4 linked regions of the Homo sapiens genome follow. The protein of the gene in region 1 interacts with the protein of each later gene in a biochemical or structural test. Each region holds a gene or a part of one and is shown in the gene's direction. Other genes may lie near its edges. The genes, in order: COL2A1, MAG, PKD1 and PDGFA.

Region 1 (7,034 bases):
TGCGCAGAGGATGGTTCGCAGGCCTGGGAACACCCCCATGTTGGTAGAAGGAGCTTCCATGTGGCATGTGGGCTGTGTGGGTGGGGTGTAGGGACTGACAGAGTACAGGCTGGCCACAGCCAGCCAGAACCAAGCTGCTGATCTCCTGGGGAGGAGGGGGCGGTGGCAGGAAGAGCTTCCCGGGAGGCCAGACCCCAGACCGGTTCTGTGGTTGCCTGACAGGCTTCTCCTAGAACACAAGTCTCCTGTGGCAGAGGGGACAGAGCTGCCTGTGGCAGCCTCTTCAGGCTGGGTTTTTAGTGCCAAGAAAGCTGCATCTTCGAAAACCTCAGGGGTCCATTGTTGGGGCTCAGACAGAAGCCCACCGTCTTCCTTGGGCCACTGGGCCTCACTGTCTCCCTCTTTCCTTTCCAGGGTCCTACTGGAGTGACTGGTCCTAAAGGAGCCCGAGGTGCCCAAGGCCCCCCGGTGAGTGAGGCCTCTGACACCCCACCCTGCACCTCACAAAGAGGCCTGGCCCCAGAGGCTCCCATGGCGGGGGTGTTCTGGGATGCCCCCGACTGTTTTCCCAGCCCTGCGTTGGTCCCCAGCCTAAGCCCACCCACAGCCAGGTGGGAGAGAGGGCGCCTGTGGGCTGGGTGCACTGTGGTCCCGGATTCCCCAGCCCGAGGCTTGTCCCTCGTTCAGCTCCCTGAAGTGCTGACTGTGGAAACCGGAGGCAGGGAAACAGCCTGTGCCTGCTTCTATGACCAGACCCGGGGGCCCTTTCTCCCTCCCTGGATCCCCCTTGCTGCTTTGCAGTCCCTCGCCCTTTCCATACCAGGCTCTGAGACCACCCCCGCCCCCCGCCCATTTTAATCTCAAACCTCCTGAGGGCTTGAGGTTCTCAGGGGCTCTCCTCTCCCCACACAGGGAGCCACTGGATTCCCTGGAGCTGCTGGCCGCGTTGGACCCCCAGGCTCCAATGTAAGTGATGCTCCTGGCATGAGAGGCACAGGCAGGCATGGAATAGCCTGGCCCAGCACCCAACAGGGTCTGGAGAGCTCCAGGCTGGCCTTCACTCCTCTGAGTCCGTTCCTGCCCCCTGGAGGAGTAGCTAACTGATCATGGGGACCTATCCCCTGAGGGTGGCTGGGGGCAGGGTTGTGGCCCTGCTGTCAGCAATGGGTGGCTGCCCTGCTGGCTTGGTGGGCAGGACAGGGCTGCCATGATTACCTTCATCCTGGACAGATGTTTCTTGAGCATGTTCTGTGCACTTGTCTGTGTGCTTTAAAGCAAGTCCGCATGTCCTGGGTCGCTCTCAGGGAGTTTGCATGGAGGGAGCAGTGGTGATGAACTCACTGGGTTCACCAGCGCCATAGGCAGAGGGAGAGAGTGCTGGGGGCAAGCTCAGGGGTCAGAGGGGCAGGGCTGGAGCGGCTCCTGAGGAAGGGGGATTGAGGACAAAGGGAGGAGGGAGGAGAGATTCCAGGTAGATGGGAGAAAGCAAAGCAAGCAGGAGCTGGAGAAGTTGGGGCTGTCTGCCCAGAGCTGTCTCACATGGTGAGAAGGTTGCAGCGGTAGATTGGGGTTGGGGGGGTTAAGCTGCCTGCCCTTAGTGTGGGGAGGTAGAGAAGCCCCCAGAGAGGAAACTGCTGTCACTGAGGCCACAGTGACTTTGGCAGCCTGGATGAGGAAGGGTGAGATGAGTCCTCACTTCCCGCATTTTCTCCTTCTAGGGCAACCCTGGACCCCCTGGTCCCCCTGGTCCTTCTGGAAAAGATGGTCCCAAAGGTGCTCGAGGAGACAGCGGCCCCCCTGGCCGAGCTGGTGAACCCGGCCTCCAAGGTCCTGCTGGACCCCCTGGCGAGAAGGGAGAGCCTGGAGATGACGGTCCCTCTGTAAGTCCCTCACCAGGCCCATGCCAAGGTCCCTGGGAGCAGGGTCGTGAGTGGCTTCTGAGCTCACAGAGCATGGGGTAGGAGGGAGCAGGGGCCGTGGGGATGCCAGGGAGCGGGGCTGCACAGACAGAGCTGTGCTGAGAGGACAGAAGAGGCTGGGCCACTGTCAGTTCTCATCTCCTGCCTCTCCTCTCTCAGGGTGCCGAAGGTCCACCAGGTCCCCAGGGTCTGGCTGGTCAGAGAGGCATCGTCGGTCTGCCTGGGCAACGTGGTGAGAGAGGATTCCCTGGCTTGCCTGGCCCGTCGGTGAGTGTGGGGTATCCCTCCCTCCATCCAAGCTGGGCCCTGCCTGCCAAGGCTTCTACCTCCCTCAGCACCCTCAGGACTGTCCCTTGTCTGCCCTCTCCCTGAAGGGTCAGTGGGCCCTGGGCAGGGGTGCTTACCACTTGCACTCATCATCCTTGTCTCTGTCCCTCCAGGGTGAGCCCGGCAAGCAGGGTGCTCCTGGAGCATCTGGAGACAGAGGTCCTCCTGGCCCCGTGGGTCCTCCTGGCCTGACGGGTCCTGCAGGTGAACCTGGACGAGAGGTGAGCAGTGAGACCCCCTGGGGTGGCCCTGATTGGGGAGAGGGGCCCTGTGAGTCTCTGTGCTGGGTCAGCAAGGACAAGTCCCAGTCAGGGCCCTGGAGAAGGGGGTGGCAGTGTCGGCCGACAGGCCTGAAAGCCTAGGTACAATGGGAAGGTTGTCGGGGAGAGAGACGGGCATAGAGACCAAGGGCTGCTTCCGGAAGGAGGAGGGAAACTTGGTGAGGAAACTTTGGCTTCAAAGTGTGAGTGAGTTGGGCAGAAGAGGAGAGGCCTGGGCTTCTGAGAGGGGCTGGGGGAGCAGAGGGGGAGATGGGCAGGAAGCAGCTCTAAGTGCATTCTTGTTTCACTTTGTCCAGGGAAGCCCCGGTGCTGATGGCCCCCCTGGCAGAGATGGCGCTGCTGGAGTCAAGGTGAGTGTCTGGTGTCTGTGTGTGCAGTGGGTTGGGGAGGACATTGCCTCGGGCCTGACAGGTCAGCTGGGGGTGGCAGGTTGGAACAAGTCTCATCTCAGCCTAGAAGGACCTTCTGTTCCTGTCTCTTCTGGAACATTCTTCTCTGAGCCTGAGACCTCTCTCCTGACAGGGTGATCGTGGTGAGACTGGTGCTGTGGGAGCTCCTGGAGCCCCTGGGCCCCCTGGCTCCCCTGGCCCCGCTGGTCCAACTGGCAAGCAAGGAGACAGAGGAGAAGCTGTAAGTATCCTGAATTCAGTAAAAGCCGCCTTCCCCTGCGCGGTGGGGCTGAGGCAGTCCCTGGGTTTCCGCAGTCTCTGGACTAAGGAGCAGTGGCCTCAGATGCAGAGGAGGCCCCCACCTGTCCTGGCTTTTCTCTGACGCTGCGCTCACTCTCTCCTCAGGGTGCACAAGGCCCCATGGGACCCTCAGGACCAGCTGGAGCCCGGGGAATCCAGGTGAGTATCCAAGTGTCCTGCACTGAGTCCCCACCAGGGATAGGCTGGGAGGGCAGCCAGCCTCCAGGTGGTTCCTGGGCCTCCAGCCCTGTGTTTCCGGGGATTCCTCAGCTTGGGTGGGACAGGAGGGGGCTCCTGTCCTGGCCCTGACCTGACTCAATCGGTGTCTGTCTTGTTCCCAGGGTCCTCAAGGCCCCAGAGGTGACAAAGGAGAGGCTGGAGAGCCTGGCGAGAGAGGCCTGAAGGGACACCGTGGCTTCACTGGTCTGCAGGGTCTGCCCGGCCCTCCTGTGAGTGTCACTGCCTGCGTGGGACTTCCCGAGGCCTCCTGCCACACAGAGCCCACTTGAGCTCCCTGTGCTGCCAGGACAGCTTGGGATCACCCTAAGCAGTTTCTAGGATTTCCTCAGGGCTGGAGGGAGGAGGAAGTGGAAAGGGAATGGGGCTGGGACATAAAGCTGTTCCCCCAGCTCCCAGAATATAGATAGATATGTCTGTGCTGACCGTGGCCTTTTGCCTCTTCCTTCTACACAGGGTCCTTCTGGAGACCAAGGTGCTTCTGGTCCTGCTGGTCCTTCTGGCCCTAGAGTAAGTGACATGGAGTTGGAAGATGGAGGGGGCCCTTCAGAGAGTGTGGGCCTGTGTTCCCATGGGGAGGGAAATGCTGCTGCTTCTGGGGAAGCTGTGGGCTCAGGGGTCCTCACTCAGTAATGGGGGCAGGACTGGCTCATGTGCCTATGGCCAGAAAAGCGCCTGAGGCCACAATGGCTGTAAGACAAACATGAATCAGCCTCTCGCTGTCAGACAGAACAGCATTTTACAAAGAGGAGCTTAGGAGGGTAGGCAAGCCATGGAGCTATCCTGCTGGTTCTTGGCCAAATAGAGACCAACTTAGGGTTCCATGACTGAGCATGTGAAGAACTGGGGGCGGAGTGGCTGGTGCTATCAGGACAGCCACCTACCCAGCCCCAGCGACTCCCCAGCCTTCCCTGTGGTGACCACTCTTTCCTCACGACCTCTCTCTCTTGCAGGGTCCTCCTGGCCCCGTCGGTCCCTCTGGCAAAGATGGTGCTAATGGAATCCCTGGCCCCATTGGGCCTCCTGGTCCCCGTGGACGATCAGGCGAAACCGGCCCTGCTGTAAGTGTCCTGACTCCTTCCCTGCTGTCGAGGTGTCCCTACCATCCGGGAGGCTTGAGCTCTTTTTTGCTCAGGGCCTCTTTTAGGGCATCAGCCTGCAGCTAACAGTGATGGCATCCTTTATCCTGAGGTCTCCTCAGAGGTCACAGGGCCCATGATCAGTGCTGGGAAACTGAAGAGAAGGGCTAAGGAAGAAATAGACATGGTGCTGTGGTTTCCTTGGTCCTCGCCTGCTACACCTCCGCCCCACCCATGGGGCTGGGAAGAGGGACACTCTAGTACATTCTAGCAAATGGGGATGGACATGGAGGGGCACTTTCACACAATCCTGGCTGATCTCTCTGTTTCCTGCTGCAGGGTCCTCCTGGAAATCCTGGACCCCCTGGTCCTCCAGGTCCCCCTGGCCCTGGCATCGACATGTCCGCCTTTGCTGGCTTAGGCCCGAGAGAGAAGGGCCCCGACCCCCTGCAGTACATGCGGGCCGACCAGGCAGCCGGTGGCCTGAGACAGCATGACGCCGAGGTGGATGCCACACTCAAGTCCCTCAACAACCAGATTGAGAGCATCCGCAGCCCCGAGGGCTCCCGCAAGAACCCTGCTCGCACCTGCAGAGACCTGAAACTCTGCCACCCTGAGTGGAAGAGTGGTAAGCTTGGAGAACAGGATCCCCTGCCCCGGGAAGCAGGGAGTCATCCCTTAGGCCTAGCAGCAAGGGAGGAGATGCCCCCTAGTACAGGGCAGAGCTGGGCCTGGAAGTTTCCGCCAGAGGGTTCCTCTCTTATTTCACAGCAGAGAAGCTGCAGCCCTGGCCCCTGTCCTGCCATGGCTACCTGGCCGAGGTGACCTCAGGGTGGACTCCATCCACCAGCTGGGCACTGCTTCTGCTCTCTTTGCATGTGTTCTTCCTTAGGGCTGGACTTAGCTCATGCAGATCTCCCTGCCCCTGCATCCTCCCAGGTCCCCCTCCTTTCAGGCCACATGTGAACCTCATCCCTTGTCCCTGTAGGCCTCTCTGTCTCTTTCAGTCAGGCCTGGGTCTCTCAAGCTTTTGTGTCTGTGCCTGTCTGAGCCCCCATGGGTGCTGCCTCTTCCCCCTGCAGGAGACTACTGGATTGACCCCAACCAAGGCTGCACCTTGGACGCCATGAAGGTTTTCTGCAACATGGAGACTGGCGAGACTTGCGTCTACCCCAATCCAGCAAACGTTCCCAAGAAGAACTGGTGGAGCAGCAAGAGCAAGGAGAAGAAACACATCTGGTTTGGAGAAACCATCAATGGTGGCTTCCATGTGAGTACCTGGGTGCCCTAGATGATGAGCAGAGATGGCTCCTCAAACTCTTTCTTTTCTTTCTCCCTGGAAGCTTTTAGCACCTTCCCCATATTTTCCTCCAGTTTTCTGTTGGGCTTGAGAGGAGGGAAAGAGGAGGAAAAGTATTTTTTCCCCACGTGGAGGTGGGAAAAGAGGTCCTCTGAGCTTGCTCCACTCCTGGAAGCAAAAATGTCCAACTAGCTCCCTGCTGCCCCAGTACCCTTGAGGTCCTTGAACCATGAACTCTTGGCAGCCCCTACAGCCCCTGGTCCCATTGAATGCCAGCTCCCAGGCCTCACACTGCCGCTCTCTGCCCCAACAGTTCAGCTATGGAGATGACAATCTGGCTCCCAACACTGCCAACGTCCAGATGACCTTCCTACGCCTGCTGTCCACGGAAGGCTCCCAGAACATCACCTACCACTGCAAGAACAGCATTGCCTATCTGGACGAAGCAGCTGGCAACCTCAAGAAGGCCCTGCTCATCCAGGGCTCCAATGACGTGGAGATCCGGGCAGAGGGCAATAGCAGGTTCACGTACACTGCCCTGAAGGATGGCTGCACGGTGAGTGGGGCTGCCAGAGAGAAGAGCTGCCTGTGCCCAAACCGCCTGGAGCAGGGCTGAGGGTTGGCCCGCGGCAGCTGTCAGGTCCTAAAGTGACAGGATCATCAGAGGCATGAGTTTGAGGGTCATGTAGAGAAGATAGGCTGAGTGACAGGTGAGAGAGAGGCACATATCATTCCATCTTCTCCATTCCCCTGGCTCAGGGGAACAAAACCCTACCTGGAACCCAGTGACTACTGTAGAAGTGTTCTCGCAATGTGTACAGGGTGAAGAAGCGGTCACAGGTTGGGAGCTCACTGTGGGGAGTGGGGAAGGAGGGGAAGGGCAGGGTGGAGAAGGGCCCTGCCGCTAAGGATAGGAGTTGAAGTGGAGAGGCCTTTGGCAAGCCAAGAAGAGGTCTCAGGAGCCCCCTCAGTGTGGTTCAACCTTGTGGGCTCTGATGCTCGCCAGTTTGTTCAGTTTTGGGCTTCTGGGCAGCTGGAACTGGGTAGCAAGGCATCTACTGAACAGAGCCTCCTCCTTTTTTCTCCCCTAGAAACATACCGGTAAGTGGGGCAAGACTGTTATCGAGTACCGGTCACAGAAGACCTCACGCCTCCCCATCATTGACATTGCACCCATGGACATAGGAGGGCCCGAGCAGGAA
Region 2 (7,034 bases), on another chromosome or scaffold:
ATCACCCCTATGAGGTTGGAACTATTATGAAGCCCATTTTCCAGATGAGAAAAATGAGGCCCAGAGAGGTTAAGATGTGGGTCCACACACAACTGGACAGGGGTAGAGTAGGGATCTGAAGACAAGCATGCTGGCTACCAAGCTGCTGTTCTTGGAAATGAGATAGCCAGGACTGGGGTCACCTGAGCCTTCCTGAACCGGTGTGCTAGGTTTGGGGTGGGATCTGGGGTCATATCTGGGGATGGTAGTTGGCTGGCAGAAGAAGCACCTCCTGGGTTCTGACCATCAGTCCCGTCCTACCCCGCAGATGCACCCTGGAAGCCAACAGTGAACGGGACAATGGTGGCCGTAGAGGGGGAGACGGTCTCTATCTTGTGCTCCACACAGAGCAACCCGGACCCTATTCTCACCATCTTCAAGGAGAAGCAGATCCTGTCCACGGTCATCTACGAGAGCGAGCTGCAGCTGGAGCTGCCGGCCGTGTCACCCGAGGATGATGGAGAGTACTGGTGTGTGGCTGAGAACCAGTATGGCCAGAGGGCCACCGCCTTCAACCTGTCTGTGGAGTGTGAGTACCTTCCGCTCCCCTATGCTGGGGATGGACGGTTCCGTGGGGGACACCAGGGTTACTGTGGGTGCCCACGCATCCCAATCAGTATTGGCTTTGCCTGTCCTCCGCAGAGACAAGGAAGGGAGGGCAGGGAAGCTGAATTCACAGCAGGAAAATAAAATCCCATCTGAGAATATTGTGTTCCCACATCCGGGAGTGGGCTTTTTTTTTTTTTTTTTTTTTTGAGACAGAGTATTGAGTCTTGCTCTGTCACCTAGGCTGGAGTGCAGTGGCAGGATCTCGGCTCACTGCAATTGCTGCCTCCTGGGTTCAAGCAATTCTCCTGCCCCAGCCTCCTGAGTAGCTGGGATTACAGGCGCTCGCCACCACACCTGGCAAATTTTTGTATTTTTAGTAGAGACGGGGTTTCGCCATGTTGGCCTGGCTTGTCTCAAACCCCTGACTTCAGATGATCTGCCTGCCTCAGTCTCCCAAAGTCCTAGGATTACAGGCGTGAGCCACCACGCGCAGCCTGGGGTGGGCTTTTGACCAGTGAAATTTCTGGATCCTGTGGCCACTGCCCCTCTGCACTAACCGAAACAATGACCATGATCTCTAACCTGTGTAGAGTGTCGCTATGTACCAGGCACTGTTGGAAGCGCTGTACAGCAACCCACTCATTTAATCCTCATGACATCTTCATGAGGGAGGTTCTATTACTGTTTCCCTGTTTACGGAGAAGGAAACTGAGACCCAGAGAGGTTATGCCACTTGCCTAAGTTCCCACAGCCAGGAAATGGCAGAATTTGAGGTTTGAATCCAGGCAGTCTGGTTCCATTCTTCTTCCCTGCCCAAGGCTGACCTCATCCTATGTTATGACAGCAGAATACATTGATGGGGTAATTGCTATACACAAAAGGCTGTGCGGCTCTGTGAGAGGTGGAGGATAGGGCTGAGAAGACACCACGCTTATGAACAGGTACAGAATAGCTGGAGAGATGACACAGATGCACATAAAAAGCTACTGTCTTGGAAATGAAACTCACCATTGCACCGCTGGCCAGCGCCTCTCATCTCCTCACTATGGACTGTGCCACCATCTCCCACCACCCCTACCCCCACAGCCATCACTCCAGGTTGTAGCAGCCAAGTCACAGTTTTGACTCCCCTTCCTTAAGCAATTCCCTCTGGAATATCGCCTTCCTGTTTCCATTTCCCCTGCTTCCTCCCAAGTTCCTGTTGGCTTCTAGCACTCCTCCCCAAATTTCACCTCTCTGGTCTTCACGATGCCCACAATGGCCCCCACCACACAAGTTTGCCAGAAGGTTCGATGACATTCAACATGCAAAGAATTCAAAGCAGTGTCTGCTACACAGTACATGCTCTGTGCTGTGTACATGGCGACAATCAGTACATGGCAGATACAGGTTAGTCCTCGGGGGCAACCTCTCGTGGCAAAGCCGTCCCTCTCCTGCTGACCTATAATCTTCAGGCACTTTCCCTCCTGGTTCTGTTCCCTAGCGGGGCTGATGTGATCCTGGCGCGGGGCTGCGTGGTCCCCTGCTCCCTCCAACTGTGCGTGCTATCCTGGGCCAGCTTCCCCCTCTGGTTGTCCCCTGATCCCTGTTACACCCCACACCAGTGATTCTTCAGTTTAAGAGTCAGAGAGAGGAGCCGATGGGAGTACTTGAACAAGCCTGCAGCACCAACTCACATACATTTTCCGGTGGGGTGCAGATCTCTCCTTTATAGTAAGAGCAGCAGGCAGCAAATGCGCGTTAGGGGCCTGCCCTGGGCCAGACCTTGAATCCTCTACAGCTGTTTTCTGGTTCAGTTCTTATTTTTATTATTATTATTATTTTTTTTTTGAGACTGAGTCTCGCTCTGTCACCCAGGCCAGAGTGCAGTGGCACGATCTTGGCTCACTGCAACCTCTGCCTCCCAGATTCAAGCGATTCTCCTGCCTCAGCCTCCCAACTAGCTGGGATTACAGGCATGCGTCACCATGCCCAGCTAATTTTTTATTTTTAGTAGAGACGGGGTTTCTCCATGTTGCCCAGGCTGTTCTCCAACTCCTAGTCTCAAGTGATCCACCCGCCTCGGCCTCCCAAAGTGCTGGGATTACAGGTGTGAGCCACCATGCCCAGCCTATCTGGCTCATTTTCAATTCTAGGGTCACCCTGTGAAACAGGGGTGTGTTATAATTATCCCCTTTACCAAGGAGAAAACTCAAGGGCGGAATTCCCTGAGGCCAGGCAGCTATAAAAGTGGGTCCGAGCCCGATAATTCCAGACTCCTGTCTGCCCCAGCTGTTAAACCTCTGGCTGCCTCACCTCCCTCACAGCTCTTAGCACTCTAGGACTCAATCCGGCTTCTCTTGAAAACGAACACGCAGGCAGATGTGGAGTGTGCAGGCCTCACCTGCTAGACTTGAGGGGAGCAGTGGCCCTGTCCCCTGCCCCACCTGCCAGCTCCCTACTCTTCACCCAGGCCTGTGTCAAAGTGCTTGCCCTTGGAGAGTGCGACCCTCAGGCCCCCTCCCTCTCCACACAGTCAATGTTCCCTGGCACCAGGTCTCCAATGTTCACTGACAGTGGTGGTGACCCTTGAGCAGGGCCTTCTGTCTTACCTGCCAACCCCAGAGCCCTGAACGGCACGGGGCATGCAGGAAGTGTGCAACCTTACCGAGTGCCTGAGATGTCTAGGGAACTAGCTTGAGTACGTTGTACGCATTGACCTATTTTGTTCTTACAACCATGTGATTGAGGGGAGGGTACCATTCTTCAACCCAGTTTAATACAAGGAAACAGAAGTTTGACTGGCATCCAGTCCCAACAGGGCTGAACAGACCTGGGCTAGAATCCCAGCTCTGTCCCCATCCTCCTGCCTGAGCTCAGGCGAGTGACTTCAGCTTTGCAACCCTTAGCAAGGGTTCATAACAGTATCTTACCACAAAGATGGCTGTGAGAACTAAGAGAATTAGGCTGGGCGTGGTGGCCCACACCTGTAGTCCCAGCACTTTGGGAGGCTGAGACAGTTGGATCACTTGAGGCCAGGAGTTCGAGACCAGCCTGACCAACCTGACAAAACCCCATCTCTACTAAAAATACAAAAATTAGCCAGGCGTGATGGCGCACACCTGCAGTTCCAGCTACTCAGGAGGCTGAGGCAGGAGAATCGCTTGAGCCCGGGGGGTGGAGGTTGCAGTGAGCTGAGATGGAGCCAGTGCACTCCAGCCTGGATGACAGAGCAAGACTGTCCCAGCCCCCCACTCCAGCCTGGATGACAGAGCAAGACTGTCCCACCCCCCCACTCCAGCCTGGATGACAGAGCAAGACTGTCCCATCCCCCCACTCCAGCCTGGATGACAGAGCAAGACTGTCCCACCCCCCTACTCCAGCCTGGATGACAGAGCAAGACTGTCCCATCCCCCCACTCCAGCCTGGATGACAGAGCAAGACTGTCCCACCCCCACACTCCAGCCTGGATGACAGAGCAAGACTGTCCCACCCCCCCACTCCCCCACAAAAAAGAAGAACTAAGAGAACAATACTGAGTGTTCATAGTGCTACATACTCTGTGGATATTGGATGTCATCATCTTTCTCACTGATTTTTCCTTTGGACTCCAGGTTAAATATTTGTTGTGTGTTTTGCTGCTGAGGTTTTGCTCATGTGACCTCTCTGCGGGAATGGTTCTGTCTATCCACCCATGAGTACTTGGGTGGGATGTTACGTATTTTTAATTTTAATTTTTTATTTTTTTGAGACAGGGTCTTGCTCTGTTGCCCAGGCTGGAATGCAGTGGTTTGATCATCGCTCACTGCAGCCTCAACCTCCTGGGCTCAACTGATTCTCACACTTCAGCCTCCTGAGTAGCTGGGACTACAGGCACACATCACCATGCCCAGTTAATGTTTTAATTTTTTGTAGAGATGGGGTCTTGCTCTGTTGCCCAGGCTGGTCTCAAACTCCTGGGCTCAAGTGATCCTCCTGCCTTGGCCTCCCAAAGTGCTGGAATGACAGGTGTGAGCCACTGCACCCGGCTGGGATGTTAAGTGTTTACAACACACTTGCGCGCCTATCTTCGGAGTCCCGTAGCCCCTTGTGAGTTACTGACTGTAACCCCCTGGTTTGCACAGATGAGAACTCCATCCTAGAGGCCCAGGAGCCTGAGTGGCCTCACCCAGCCAGTAGATGGCAGAGCTGGGATTCAAGCCAAATCCATCCCACCACAAACTCCTCATTCTTTGTACCTTTGTCTTACAGGTTTGTCTAGAGTCCCATAACAGTTTCCGCAGCTTCACAGGTTGTCTGAAAAGATACTAAGCACGTGCACCGGCAGGGTGTCGGCGTTCCGCCGACATCCAGGTCGAACACTTTGTCACCAGAGCACCAGTGGGGCTGTCTTGAGTGGAAGTGCTTTGAAAAAGTTTTATGTCTGTCGGTTCAGGTTCGCTGTTATTAATGTACTCCGTGGCGTGTTAGCTGGTTAACGCTATAGCAAGCATATTGCAGCTCTGCCCGAACAGGACTTTTTATTCAGTAGACTTAGAGATGTTTGCACAGAGGTTCCCATTCCTGCCGTGAATCCGTGTGCCCGTGTGACTCCCAGGTCCACCACCGTTACCGGCACATTCTTTTTGCTAGCAATTGAAAATAGGTGGGGTAGGTGAGCCAAGGGTCTCTTGCCTGTGTGTAAGTGGGTTTTGGTGAGAACTCACTGAGAACCAGTGCTCAGTCTAGAGCAAGCCAAGGAGGGTGCTGGACTCTCAGGCCAAGAAAGAGAACACAGTTTAAAAAGCAGCATTCTGTGCTGTAATACAATTGCGTATTTTGGTACAAAAATTAGCCAGGCATGGTGGCACGCACGTGTAGTCCCAGCTACTCAAGAGGCTGAGGCAGGACAATCACTTGAACCTGGGAGGCAGAGGTTGCAGTGAGCAGAGATCGTGCCACTGCACTCCAGCCTGGGCGACAGAGAGACTCCGTCTCAAAAATCATAGTAATAACAATAATAATAATAATAATTTCCTGTTTTGGAAAATGAAAGAAAAAACCTACCAGTACTATTTTTGTAATCCAGTGGCAGCAAAGCAAAGCTCAACCAAGTGACTTTGGGTGGAGGGTGGTGTTTGGTGCTAGTGGCAGGAGGGAATCTCATGGGTGAGGAAGGGCCGGGGTTCAAGGCGGCTTTAGGGGAGGAAGTGGGGGGCATCTGCAGCGCAGACTGAAAGGAAGGAGCACAGCCTGGAAGCCAGAAAGGAGGGGATAGTCTAAGCCTGTGTGAGCCCCAAGGGTCTGGGGAGGCCGGGGGCTGGGAGAGTTCCATGGTTCCTCCCTTCTACGTGTGGGGCCCAGAGTGGAGAAGGAGCAAGCCCCTGTCTTGATGGAAACAGGAGGCCCCTTATGTAAGTGTGTGATGCAGGGAGGGTGAGTGCTGGGGAGGAGAACTGAGTGAGGCAGGGAGTGAATGATACGTGGAGCGAGGTGCAGCTTCCCTGGGTGGTCAGAGAAGGAGACGCCGCATGGGTAGAGGCCAGTTTGGAGCGAGGGAGGGCGTTCCACAGGCAACTGATGGAAGTGTTCCAAGTTGAGGGAGAAACGTACAGACCCTGGAGTGGGAGAAAGCTCCACGATTTTCAGACACAGCAAGGAACCGGTGTGGCTGGAAAGGACTAAGCCAGGGGGAGAGAAGGAGAGAGTGTGTGGTCAGGCAGGGCCTGAGGGGCCTTGTAGATGAAAGACTTTGTATTTTGGGCTGGGCACAGTGGCTTGCGCCTTATAATCCCAGCACTTTGGGAGGCCAAGGCAGGAGGATTGCTTGAGCTCAGGAGTTCAAGACCAGCATGGGGAACATAGCAAGACCCTGTCTCTACAAAAACAAACAAAAACCCTCCAGTAACTATCATGAGTATGACAGATTTACCGTCCTCTGCAATTCTGAACATAAAGCTTTAAAATCAAAAGGCTTTTTGCAAATTTGGCACCACCCTGATTTGACAGCAAAATCTCGCCTAAAGAACACAAGGCTGTTTGTAATCTATACTGATTTCATTTAGGGTGAATATTCGTACTTTTTGCTGTATACATTACATTGAACTATGTGAAATTTTTTCTGCATGTCAAAAATGGTCAAATGTGGCTGGGCGCAGTGGCTTATGCCTGTAATCCCAGCACTTTGGGAGGCTGAGGCGGGAGGATCACTAGAGGCCAAGAGTGCAAATGAGCTATAGTACTGCCACTGCACTTCAGCCTGGGCGACAGGGCCAGACCCTGTCTCTAAACGATAAAAAATAAAGGATTTGTATTTTAGGTGAACCACGGAGCAACAGAAGGAGGGTTTTGAGCAGAGAGTGCCATGATCTGATTTATGTATTACAAGGTGAATGAGGTTAGAGAGAGTGTAAGAGCCAGGGCCCAGGAGAAACGGCCCGTCCCTGTGACATAGTGCTCTGTCCAGGCTGAAGCTGAGGCTAGAGTCG
Region 3 (2,725 bases), on another chromosome or scaffold:
CGCAGCCCGTGGCCTGGCGGCCTCGCTGCTCTTCCTGCTTTTGGTCAAGGTGAGGGCTGGGCCGGTGGGCGCGGGGCTGGGCGCACACCCCAGGGCTGCAAGCAGACAGATTTCTCGTCCGCAGGCTGCCCAGCAGCTACGCTTCGTGCGCCAGTGGTCCGTCTTTGGCAAGACATTATGCCGAGCTCTGCCAGAGCTCCTGGGGGTCACCTTGGGCCTGGTGGTGCTCGGGGTAGCCTACGCCCAGCTGGCCATCCTGGTAGGTGACTGCGCGGCCGGGGAGGGCGTCTTAGCTCAGCTCAGCTCAGCTGTACGCCCTCACTGGTGTCGCCTTCCCCGCAGCTCGTGTCTTCCTGTGTGGACTCCCTCTGGAGCGTGGCCCAGGCCCTGTTGGTGCTGTGCCCTGGGACTGGGCTCTCTACCCTGTGTCCTGCCGAGTCCTGGCACCTGTCACCCCTGCTGTGTGTGGGGCTCTGGGCACTGCGGCTGTGGGGCGCCCTACGGCTGGGGGCTGTTATTCTCCGCTGGCGCTACCACGCCTTGCGTGGAGAGCTGTACCGGCCGGCCTGGGAGCCCCAGGACTACGAGATGGTGGAGTTGTTCCTGCGCAGGCTGCGCCTCTGGATGGGCCTCAGCAAGGTCAAGGAGGTGGGTACGGCCCAGTGGGGGGGAGAGGGACACGCCCTGGGCTCTGCCCAGGGTGCAGCCGGACTGACTGAGCCCCTGTGCCGCCCCCAGTTCCGCCACAAAGTCCGCTTTGAAGGGATGGAGCCGCTGCCCTCTCGCTCCTCCAGGGGCTCCAAGGTATCCCCGGATGTGCCCCCACCCAGCGCTGGCTCCGATGCCTCGCACCCCTCCACCTCCTCCAGCCAGCTGGATGGGCTGAGCGTGAGCCTGGGCCGGCTGGGGACAAGGTGTGAGCCTGAGCCCTCCCGCCTCCAAGCCGTGTTCGAGGCCCTGCTCACCCAGTTTGACCGACTCAACCAGGCCACAGAGGACGTCTACCAGCTGGAGCAGCAGCTGCACAGCCTGCAAGGCCGCAGGAGCAGCCGGGCGCCCGCCGGATCTTCCCGTGGCCCATCCCCGGGCCTGCGGCCAGCACTGCCCAGCCGCCTTGCCCGGGCCAGTCGGGGTGTGGACCTGGCCACTGGCCCCAGCAGGACACCCCTTCGGGCCAAGAACAAGGTCCACCCCAGCAGCACTTAGTCCTCCTTCCTGGCGGGGGTGGGCCGTGGAGTCGGAGTGGACACCGCTCAGTATTACTTTCTGCCGCTGTCAAGGCCGAGGGCCAGGCAGAATGGCTGCACGTAGGTTCCCCAGAGAGCAGGCAGGGGCATCTGTCTGTCTGTGGGCTTCAGCACTTTAAAGAGGCTGTGTGGCCAACCAGGACCCAGGGTCCCCTCCCCAGCTCCCTTGGGAAGGACACAGCAGTATTGGACGGTTTCTAGCCTCTGAGATGCTAATTTATTTCCCCGAGTCCTCAGGTACAGCGGGCTGTGCCCGGCCCCACCCCCTGGGCAGATGTCCCCCACTGCTAAGGCTGCTGGCTTCAGGGAGGGTTAGCCTGCACCGCCGCCACCCTGCCCCTAAGTTATTACCTCTCCAGTTCCTACCGTACTCCCTGCACCGTCTCACTGTGTGTCTCGTGTCAGTAATTTATATGGTGTTAAAATGTGTATATTTTTGTATGTCACTATTTTCACTAGGGCTGAGGGGCCTGCGCCCAGAGCTGGCCTCCCCCAACACCTGCTGCGCTTGGTAGGTGTGGTGGCGTTATGGCAGCCCGGCTGCTGCTTGGATGCGAGCTTGGCCTTGGGCCGGTGCTGGGGGCACAGCTGTCTGCCAGGCACTCTCATCACCCCAGAGGCCTTGTCATCCTCCCTTGCCCCAGGCCAGGTAGCAAGAGAGCAGCGCCCAGGCCTGCTGGCATCAGGTCTGGGCAAGTAGCAGGACTAGGCATGTCAGAGGACCCCAGGGTGGTTAGAGGAAAAGACTCCTCCTGGGGGCTGGCTCCCAGGGTGGAGGAAGGTGACTGTGTGTGTGTGTGTGTGCGCGCGCGCACGCGCGAGTGTGCTGTATGGCCCAGGCAGCCTCAAGGCCCTCGGAGCTGGCTGTGCCTGCTTCTGTGTACCACTTCTGTGGGCATGGCCGCTTCTAGAGCCTCGACACCCCCCCAACCCCCGCACCAAGCAGACAAAGTCAATAAAAGAGCTGTCTGACTGCAATCTGTGCCTCTATGTCTGTGCACTGGGGTCAGGACTTTATTTATTTCACTGACAGGCAATACCGTCCAAGGCCAGTGCAGGAGGGAGGGCCCCGGCCTCACACAAACTCGGTGAAGTCCTCCACCGAGGAGATGAGGCGCTTCCGCTGGCCCACCTCATAGCCAGGTGTGGGCTCGGCTGGAGTCTGTGCAGGGGCTTTGCTATGGGACGGAGGGTGCACCAGAGGTAGGCTGGGGTTGGAGTAGGCGGCTTCCTCGCAGATCTGAAGGCAGAGGCGGCTTGGGCAGTAAGTCTGGGAGGCGTGGCAACCGCTCTGCCCACACACCCGCCCCACAGCTTGGGCAGCCAGCACACCCCGCTGAGGGAGCCCCATATTCCCTACCCGCTGGCGGAGCCGCTTGATGTGGCGGAGCCGGGCAATCCACTTGGAGGGGTAGATATCGGTGGGGTTGGAGCGGCTATGATGCACCTGTGAGGCCATCTGGGGACGTAGGCAGGGG
Region 4 (7,034 bases), on another chromosome or scaffold:
GAAGCCGGTGTCTTTCTGTTTTCACGACCCAATGAAAAGCCTTGGACGCATCTGCTGCCTGGGGGCTATTTTTGCGGCTCACCCTCGGGCCCTGGGGCCGGGCCACTAGAGAACACAGCTTGTTTGCAAGCACAGAGTTTTGCTGCGGGTTGGCAAGGGTTAAAGGGGCCTCTCACCCCGGGGGACCCCGGTGGACCACGGGTGGGTGGGAGGGGCGAGGGTGTAGGGTGGCCGCCCGCCCGCTCAGGGCTAGAGAGCCCCTTCCTAGAAGGCGAGGTCTCTCTTCCAGGCGTGCGTGGCGCTCTTTTCAAAATGAGCACTCGGCCTGGGAACTCCAGTCGGAGCCTTAACCTGGTTTAAAAAGGGGCTCTGCGATGAACTTGTTAAAAAGAGTAACTAAAGGCAGCAGAATTGGAAGAAGTTACGTGACATGAAGATTCTTCTCTCCCTGCAAAGGACTCTGAAAAAGGGGGGGCATGCGGGGATTAAGTGAAATCACATGGTCTAGTCATTTGGAAATTTGTACCTAATTATGGTGGTGGAGAGGCCTGAACTATTTTCGTTTCATGCCAAAACCATTTTCTAACAAGGCCGATGGTTTCTGTAGTTTCTTGACCCAGGAAATCCCTGGGCTGATCCTTATCGGGGGCGGAGGGTGGGGGGTGCGGTAGAGTTTCACTCCCACAGCACAGCTGGGCGGGGGGATTTTGACCGGATCCCTCAGTGGATAACTCTAGGGAAAAGGATCTGGCTCTGGTTTGTGGGGGGGAATCCCTTGCCTGAATCTCGCTGGTCCTGGATGGGTTTGGAAAAGTGGGGGGGGGGGGCTGCTTCCTGGAGAAGGTTTCAGGGCTTTTTCTGGGGGGGGGTGCTAGCAGAAGGGGAGGCTTGTGGAGAGCTGGGCCTCCTCGTGGGACTGGCTTTGGAAGCTGCAGGGAAATGGGCCATTCACTTTCTGCTGGGACTATTCTTATTCTGGTCTTGGCGCCCCGCCTCCTCCACCCCCACCCATTATCGCCTTTAGCATTGCAGCTTCGTGGGGTATGCTGATGGCATTCCTCACCCGGGGGCTTCTAGGTCGTAGGGTCCGAACAGAAAAAAACAAGGATGCCCCTAAGCTAGTCCTGGCCGGTTTCAAATTCCCTCTGCAGTCATGTCCCAGGAGCTCTCTCCTCCTGCCCCAGGGAATGCAGAGTGGATCTCAGCCCTCCTGTGTCCGTGAGAGGTTTTGGGGTCTGAATAGGATTCTCCTAGTGTCTGGGAGGCTTTGTGTGTGAGAATATGGGGGTGGCATCTACCTCCTCTCTTGCCCCTGGTGGGGGACCTTTTGTAACATAGGGGGGCCTCCTTGGTCCTGTCCAGTCCCCTCCCCAGGTGTGGCTGAAAACAGAACCAGAGAAACCCACAGTCTCTCGCCTGAGGACAGGAGAGGCACCGGCTGCTCCTCCAGCTTGTAGGGGGTGTCTTTTCTTCAACTCCCGTTCTCTGTCGTAGGGAGGGTTGTAAACTGGTTGAGGTCAGTTCTCATTGGGTAAGCATCCCTCCGGGTCCTGGACTCCCTTTTCAATCCAGAGGTGCTTCTGGTCTGTTAGGGGCAGGGGACAGTGCAGGGGCTCATGAGGAAGGGGCTGGGTGCTGGGAGAAACCCAACGCAACGAACTTTCCCTCGGAGTCCCTTTATAACCCTTCCAGGCTGATGTTCTTGGCATTAGGTGCCTCTAAGGCCCACGCTGTAGGAAGCAGAAAAGAGGCTTTGAGGAATCCCAGGGGTGCGCCCCAGCTATGCTGACTCCTCCTCCAGGTGGGTGGGGCTTTGTGACTGGCATTTGGCTCCTCCCAGCATGCAGGCTGCGTCCCACTGTACAGTTGGGGAGACTGAGCCAGGCACCGTCTGGGGTCTTGGCCGCTCCTTGACTGTGGCTGGAGGAGCACGGGTAGTGGGATTCCTCACCATCCTCCCGGAGCCCAAGCGTTTCATTCGGAGGGTGTGCTGGAGTGAAGAGTGAAGGCTTTTCACCTGTGGCTTTTAGATCCAGAGGCCAGCATGTGGTCTTTTAATGACCGGCAGCCCGCGTTTAGGGCCTGTTTGTCCTGTGTGCAGTGGCAGCTGGGGAGCTTTGTTCCCCAAAGTGGTCTGGCCTGGCGCCCGTGGTTCATTGAGCGGCTGATAACGTAAATAGCCCCATCTCGGGCCAGTAATGCCAGACCAGGACTGATGGTTGGGAGATTCTCCCTGTCCTGGAGTTGTCCTTGGGACATCTGTGCCTAAAAGACAAAAGGGAAAGCCTCCTGGTTAACTGTCCTGGGAGCAGTTTTAGGGGTGATTCTTGCCGGCCAGGCCACCTGGGCCTGGGCTGCTCAGAGCTGTGTTTGGTGAGCTGTGGGCGGCTTTGGTGAGCGTGGTCCACTCTCGGCATCTTGAGCTGGGAGCAAAGGGTGGGCTTGGTAGACTGGGAGCTATTCCCCCTCTGTCCCTTGTCTCAAGAAATTTGCCAGCTCAGGCTTTCTGGGGGTCAATGAGCTAGCACGGCTGCCGTCTTCTCTGTTTATTAAGCCAGGGCTAGAGGGTGGCGGGGCACGGGGACTGTGCTCTGTGGACGCAGACCACATGAGTCTCCTGCGAGCCACTTCTGGTCCTGTTATATTTCTCTGGGCCTCAGTTTCCTCGGATGTGAAGAAGTGATAGCACCCACCGCACACTCAGAAGCTAAGTCATTGGTAAAGCAGCTAATGCAAACGTGGCTATCACAAGGCATCGGAAAATGGGAGCTGGTGTTATTGAATTTTCTCCTACGAGTGGAGAACGGACCCGTTACTCTTTGGTTTGGCCATGGCAAGATGGCCACCACCAGGATGTGATTCATAAGTGTCACTTTTTCATGAAAAGAAATGCTGCTTGTAACAGTTGGTTGATGGGAAATTCTTACTGCATGAGTAGTTCTGTTCTGATCTTATTTTGGGTCTCAAAAAAAATTAGTGTCATTGGAACATTGAGTCATTTTCGGTAAAAAGTTGGGCTCCGGGCGAGCTTCGTCTTTGCCTGACACCTTCTGTGAGGTTTGCGGGCTTCATTTTAAATCCGCAGGCTCCTCGGGGGTGCGGAGGAAGCTGAGGTTTCTCCGGTTGGTTTGTGGATAGTCACGGATGCCTCGATGGGCTGGGGAGAGACACTTTGGGCTGCTAGTCCTGAACCCAGGAGGTGCAGAGCCCATTAGCCGTCTGGATTGGTGACCGGGACTTCCCAAGCTTCCCAGGAGGGGGCAGGGAGATCTCTGTGCCTCTGGAGCATCCTGGCTGTGAGGCTCACTGTCTCCGCGCCTGTTCACCCTTGGTTATATGGTGGGGGGGGCAGGATGGAGGGAGATGGGAAGAGACTCCCCAGCTGGGACCAGGGGGCCAAGGCAAGGAGGCCCAGAGCCACCCGCGGTGCCCAGGTGCGGGCAGTGTGTCCATGGGCAGGACTGTGGGTCCTCTCCCTACTGCGGGATTTGGAGAGACCTGAGACTCCCCCAGCCTGTCTGCTGTAGCCGTCAGCGCCTGTGAAGGGGTGGTGTGTGCAGCTGGGTGGGGTGGCGGGGATAGGTTCTCAGTTCTGCTCCCCGGTCAGTGCTGGTCTTGGCTCTGGGCCACTGCCCCACCTGCACCTGGCCGCCTGGCTGTAAACACGGCTCGCAGATGCCAGCTTCTCTCAACCCCTCTCCGCAGGCCGCCTCCCTCTGTCAGGCTGCGGGAACTCCTCCGTGTAGCCTCCACGAGAGGCCACGTGCCCTCCTGCCTCTCCTCATGGCCGCTGGCCCTAGAGTAGACTCATTTCAGGAATGAGTGGGGTCTGGCCCGCAGCCCAGTCTGGCGGCTTCCAGTGCCCCTCAGAGGTTAGGCCACTTCTTCCAGGAGTGCTTTAGTGAGGGGGAGGGAGGGAGACGTACAGGCACCTGCAGAAATCTCAGCGGCCTCTGCTTCTCCCTCGCTCCAGCCCCCAGACAGAGGTGGGGCCTGGCTTAGCCCTGTGCCCCTCGGGGAGGTGCACGGAGCTGGGCGGCCTCAGGCCCCTCCTGCCCCGGGGCAGCCCTCACCTGGGCTACCTTGGAGGAGGCACCGTAGGGGAGACCACCTGCAACCTCTTCCCCGAAGGGCCCTGCGCTTCGTCACGGGCCCCTGAATGTGGGGACCTCTGTGCTAACGGGGCGTTTTCTGCGGTTTCCAGTGTTTCATGCCCTGCATCTCTGGAAAGCCCTGGTGGGAATCGAGGTTCTCCTGGAGGGCCCCTAATGGCGGGAGCTGTGAGGGGCTGTGCCGCCAGGTGCCTGTTCCCCAGTGGCTCCCAAAGCTGGTCTGTGGGAAGTGCGGCTGGACAGGCCCAGGGCACAGCGCACGGGCCTGGGGCATTCACGGTGTTCTCCTTCCGCCTGCAGGGAGTGAGGATTCTTTGGACACCAGCCTGAGAGCTCACGGGGTCCATGCCACTAAGCATGTGCCCGAGAAGCGGCCCCTGCCCATTCGGAGGAAGAGAAGCATCGGTGAGTCCAGGAGGCCGCGATGGGCAGGGCAGGGCCGGGTCAGGGTGAGTCCAGGAGGCCGCGATGGGCAGGGCAGGGCCGGGTGGGGAGGAGCTGCCCGCTCTCCCAGCGCAGTGGCCTCAGGCAAGCCACCCGTTCCCTCCTCCCTAAAATAGGCCTGGCCCTGGTGCCTCTGGCTCTGGCCTCTCCCGAGGCCTCCCTCCTTCGAGGGTGTCTCCTGCCCCAGCCCGCCTGCTCCTCCTGGAGTCCTGGTCTGGGCCAAGAGAGCTTCCAGGAGAGAAGAGCCATCATAAATTCCTTAAGCGCCCTGTCTTGTCGGGGCCTGTCCCCAGGAGCCTTGCCGGAAACGTGGTCGCGCCTAATTTCCAATTCGCAGTGTGGGCATCGTGCTCCTGCGCCGGCTGCTGAACTGGTGGGGACGCGCGTGCTGTGTCCGGCGGCTGCCCCCCGACACCCTCACCACACCCGTGTGCCCCGCCCCACTCACACCTGGCTCCAGGGCTCCACCCCCGCGTCCATTTGGGGGATATTTTGTCCCTTCTTACAGGACAGCCCCATGGCCCTCCAGCCCCCTGAGGAGGAACTAGCAGGTTTGGGGAGTTCAGGGGCCAGTCCCTGCTTTCTACCCAAGTCCCGCGTCCTCGGGGGTCCCACCTGATGGGTTTGAGCCCTGGTGCTGCTCATGGCTCTGGGGCCCTGAGCAGGTGGACCCCCCTCTCTGAGCTGTGGTTTCCTCCATGAAGATGGATTTTGTATCTTCCACCTTAAAGTGTCATGTGTGGCTGGCTAGTCCCAGCTGATGCAAGCAGGCCCTCCCCAGGTGACATTTGCTGTGGGGTCTGCATTTTGCACCCTTCAGACCACTTTTGAAGGCTAGAGCATGCAGCAAGTGCTGTAGGATTCACTGTTAAGGCCCCCTCCTCCCCCAGCCACTGGCCCCACCTGGACTAGGTTCCCCTCTGCCCCTGCCACCCCCAGTCTCTGGCCCCACCTGGACTAGGTTCCCCTCTCCCCACCCCCAGTCTCTGGCCCCACCTGGACTAAGTTCCCCTCTCCCCACCCCCAGCCACTGGCCCCACCTGGACTAAGTTCCCCTCCCCTCCGAGCCACTGGCCCCACCTGTCCAGGTCCCTCCAGCCTGCAGGCACCGGGCTGGGCTCCTCTGGATGTGTGGTGCTCCTGCCCACCCAGCCCCTAAGCCTCTGCTCCCAGCTCAGCCTCTGCTGCCTGGGAGGAATCCTGGCCTGTGGCTTACCCTGGTTGCCCCCCAGGCCCAGCTGGAGCCGCCTCAGCCCTGGGGTGGGGCCGTGGTCGCAGAGGCCGGTCCCCGCTCACTGTGCCCCCGCCGTTGCAGAGGAAGCTGTCCCCGCTGTCTGCAAGACCAGGACGGTCATTTACGAGATTCCTCGGAGTCAGGTCGACCCCACGTCCGCCAACTTCCTGATCTGGCCCCCGTGCGTGGAGGTGAAACGCTGCACCGGCTGCTGCAACACGAGCAGTGTCAAGTGCCAGCCCTCCCGCGTCCACCACCGCAGCGTCAAGGTGAGCCCTCCCCTCCCCTCCCCTCCCCTCCCCTCCCCTCCTCTCCTCTCCCCTCCCCTCCTCTCCTCTCCCCTCCCCTCCTCTCCCCTCCCCTCCCCTCCCCACCCAAGCCCGGGGCCGCCCCTACCAAGCAGCCAGGGTCCCTCCTGCATCCACCACCACAGCGTCAAGGTGAGCCCTGCCCCTCCCCTCCTCTCCCCTCCCCTCCCCTCCCCTCCCCACCCGAGCCCAAGGGCCGCCCCTACCTAGCAGCCAGGGTCCCTCCCGCGTCCACCACCGCAGCGTCAAGGTGAGCCCTGCCCCTCCCCTCCCCTCCCCACCCGAGCCCGGGGCCGCCCCTACCAAGCAGCCAGGGTCCCTCACGCATCCAACACTGCAGCATCCAGGTGAGCCCTGCCCCACGCAGGCCTGAGGGTCGCCCCTACTGGGTTGCCAGGGTCCCTCCTGGGAGGCCACAAGGTGCCCCTGGTGTGGCTGGTGGGGGTGCACGGCTGCGCTCCCATCTCCCTGGCAGGTACACTGAGGCCCAGGGAGGAGAAGGAGCACCTGGGGGTGCGGGAAAGGCAGGGCCGGCCGGGGCTTCTGCTCTGCTGCTCTGGCGACGAGCCTGGCCTCCTTTCCACGCCCTAGACCACAGTGCGGGGGCCGTTTTGGGCCTTGCGAGGTGTCGAGCTGCTTAGCCGGAAGCTGTCTGGCGTCCCCGGGCCCTGGAGGGTCCTGTGCGGGCTCTTCAGTGGGGGCCGAGGTGCATGGCAGGAGGAGTAGGGGGTGGATATTCAGAGCCTGCATTGCCTTTTGAAGTGCCTGACCTTTGGAGGGCCCCCCCGGCTTCCCCCCTAAAGCAGCCCAGGAGAAGGAGAAGGAGTGCTTGGGGTGGGCTCGAGGCCAGACAGCAGACTTCCTTCCATAGAATCCCAGGGTGAGCCCCTCTTTCTTTAAGTTGGGGGTGGTGCCTGCCTTCTTCAGGCTGCTTTA

What was found.
Region 2: the proteins of COL2A1 (region 1) and MAG form a complex in vitro, tested with the Homo sapiens proteins (one study listed by BioGRID).
Region 3: the proteins of COL2A1 (region 1) and PKD1 form a complex in vitro, tested with the Homo sapiens proteins (one study listed by BioGRID).
Region 4: the proteins of COL2A1 (region 1) and PDGFA form a complex in vitro, tested with the Homo sapiens proteins (one study listed by BioGRID).

The regions. Positions count from the first base shown.
Region 1 is NC_000012.12:47,973,443-47,980,476, reverse strand, and holds part of COL2A1 (collagen alpha-1(II) chain isoform 1 precursor), read left to right. Parts: intron 1-414; coding exon 415-468; intron 469-912; coding exon 913-966; intron 967-1,718; coding exon 1,719-1,880; intron 1,881-2,078; coding exon 2,079-2,186; intron 2,187-2,359; coding exon 2,360-2,467; intron 2,468-2,823; coding exon 2,824-2,877; intron 2,878-3,049; coding exon 3,050-3,157; intron 3,158-3,321; coding exon 3,322-3,375; intron 3,376-3,557; coding exon 3,558-3,665; intron 3,666-3,909; coding exon 3,910-3,963; intron 3,964-4,406; coding exon 4,407-4,514; intron 4,515-4,871; coding exon 4,872-5,160; intron 5,161-5,614; coding exon 5,615-5,802; intron 5,803-6,145; coding exon 6,146-6,388; intron 6,389-6,923; coding exon 6,924-7,034. UniProt on the Homo sapiens protein: Type II collagen is specific for cartilaginous tissues. It is essential for the normal embryonic development of the skeleton, for linear growth and for the ability of cartilage to resist compressive forces.
Region 2 is NC_000019.10:35,302,141-35,309,174, forward strand, and holds part of MAG (myelin-associated glycoprotein isoform a precursor), read left to right. Parts: intron 1-307; coding exon 308-568; intron 569-7,034. UniProt on the Homo sapiens protein: Adhesion molecule that mediates interactions between myelinating cells and neurons by binding to neuronal sialic acid-containing gangliosides and to the glycoproteins RTN4R and RTN4RL2.
Region 3 is NC_000016.10:2,088,208-2,090,932, reverse strand, and holds the end of PKD1 (polycystin-1 isoform 1 precursor), read left to right. Parts: coding exon 1-49; intron 50-124; coding exon 125-259; intron 260-342; coding exon 343-648; exon of another isoform or gene 649-738; coding exon 739-1,206; 3' UTR 1,207-2,225; downstream 2,226-2,725. Other genes in the region: TSC2 (tuberin), read right to left, coding at 2,323-2,487, 2,608-2,706. UniProt on the Homo sapiens protein: Component of a heteromeric calcium-permeable ion channel formed by PKD1 and PKD2 that is activated by interaction between PKD1 and a Wnt family member, such as WNT3A and WNT9B. Both PKD1 and PKD2 are required for channel activity.
Region 4 is NC_000007.14:509,834-516,867, reverse strand, and holds part of PDGFA (platelet-derived growth factor subunit A isoform 2 preproprotein), read left to right. Parts: intron 1-4,412; coding exon 4,413-4,517; intron 4,518-5,871; coding exon 5,872-6,059; intron 6,060-7,034.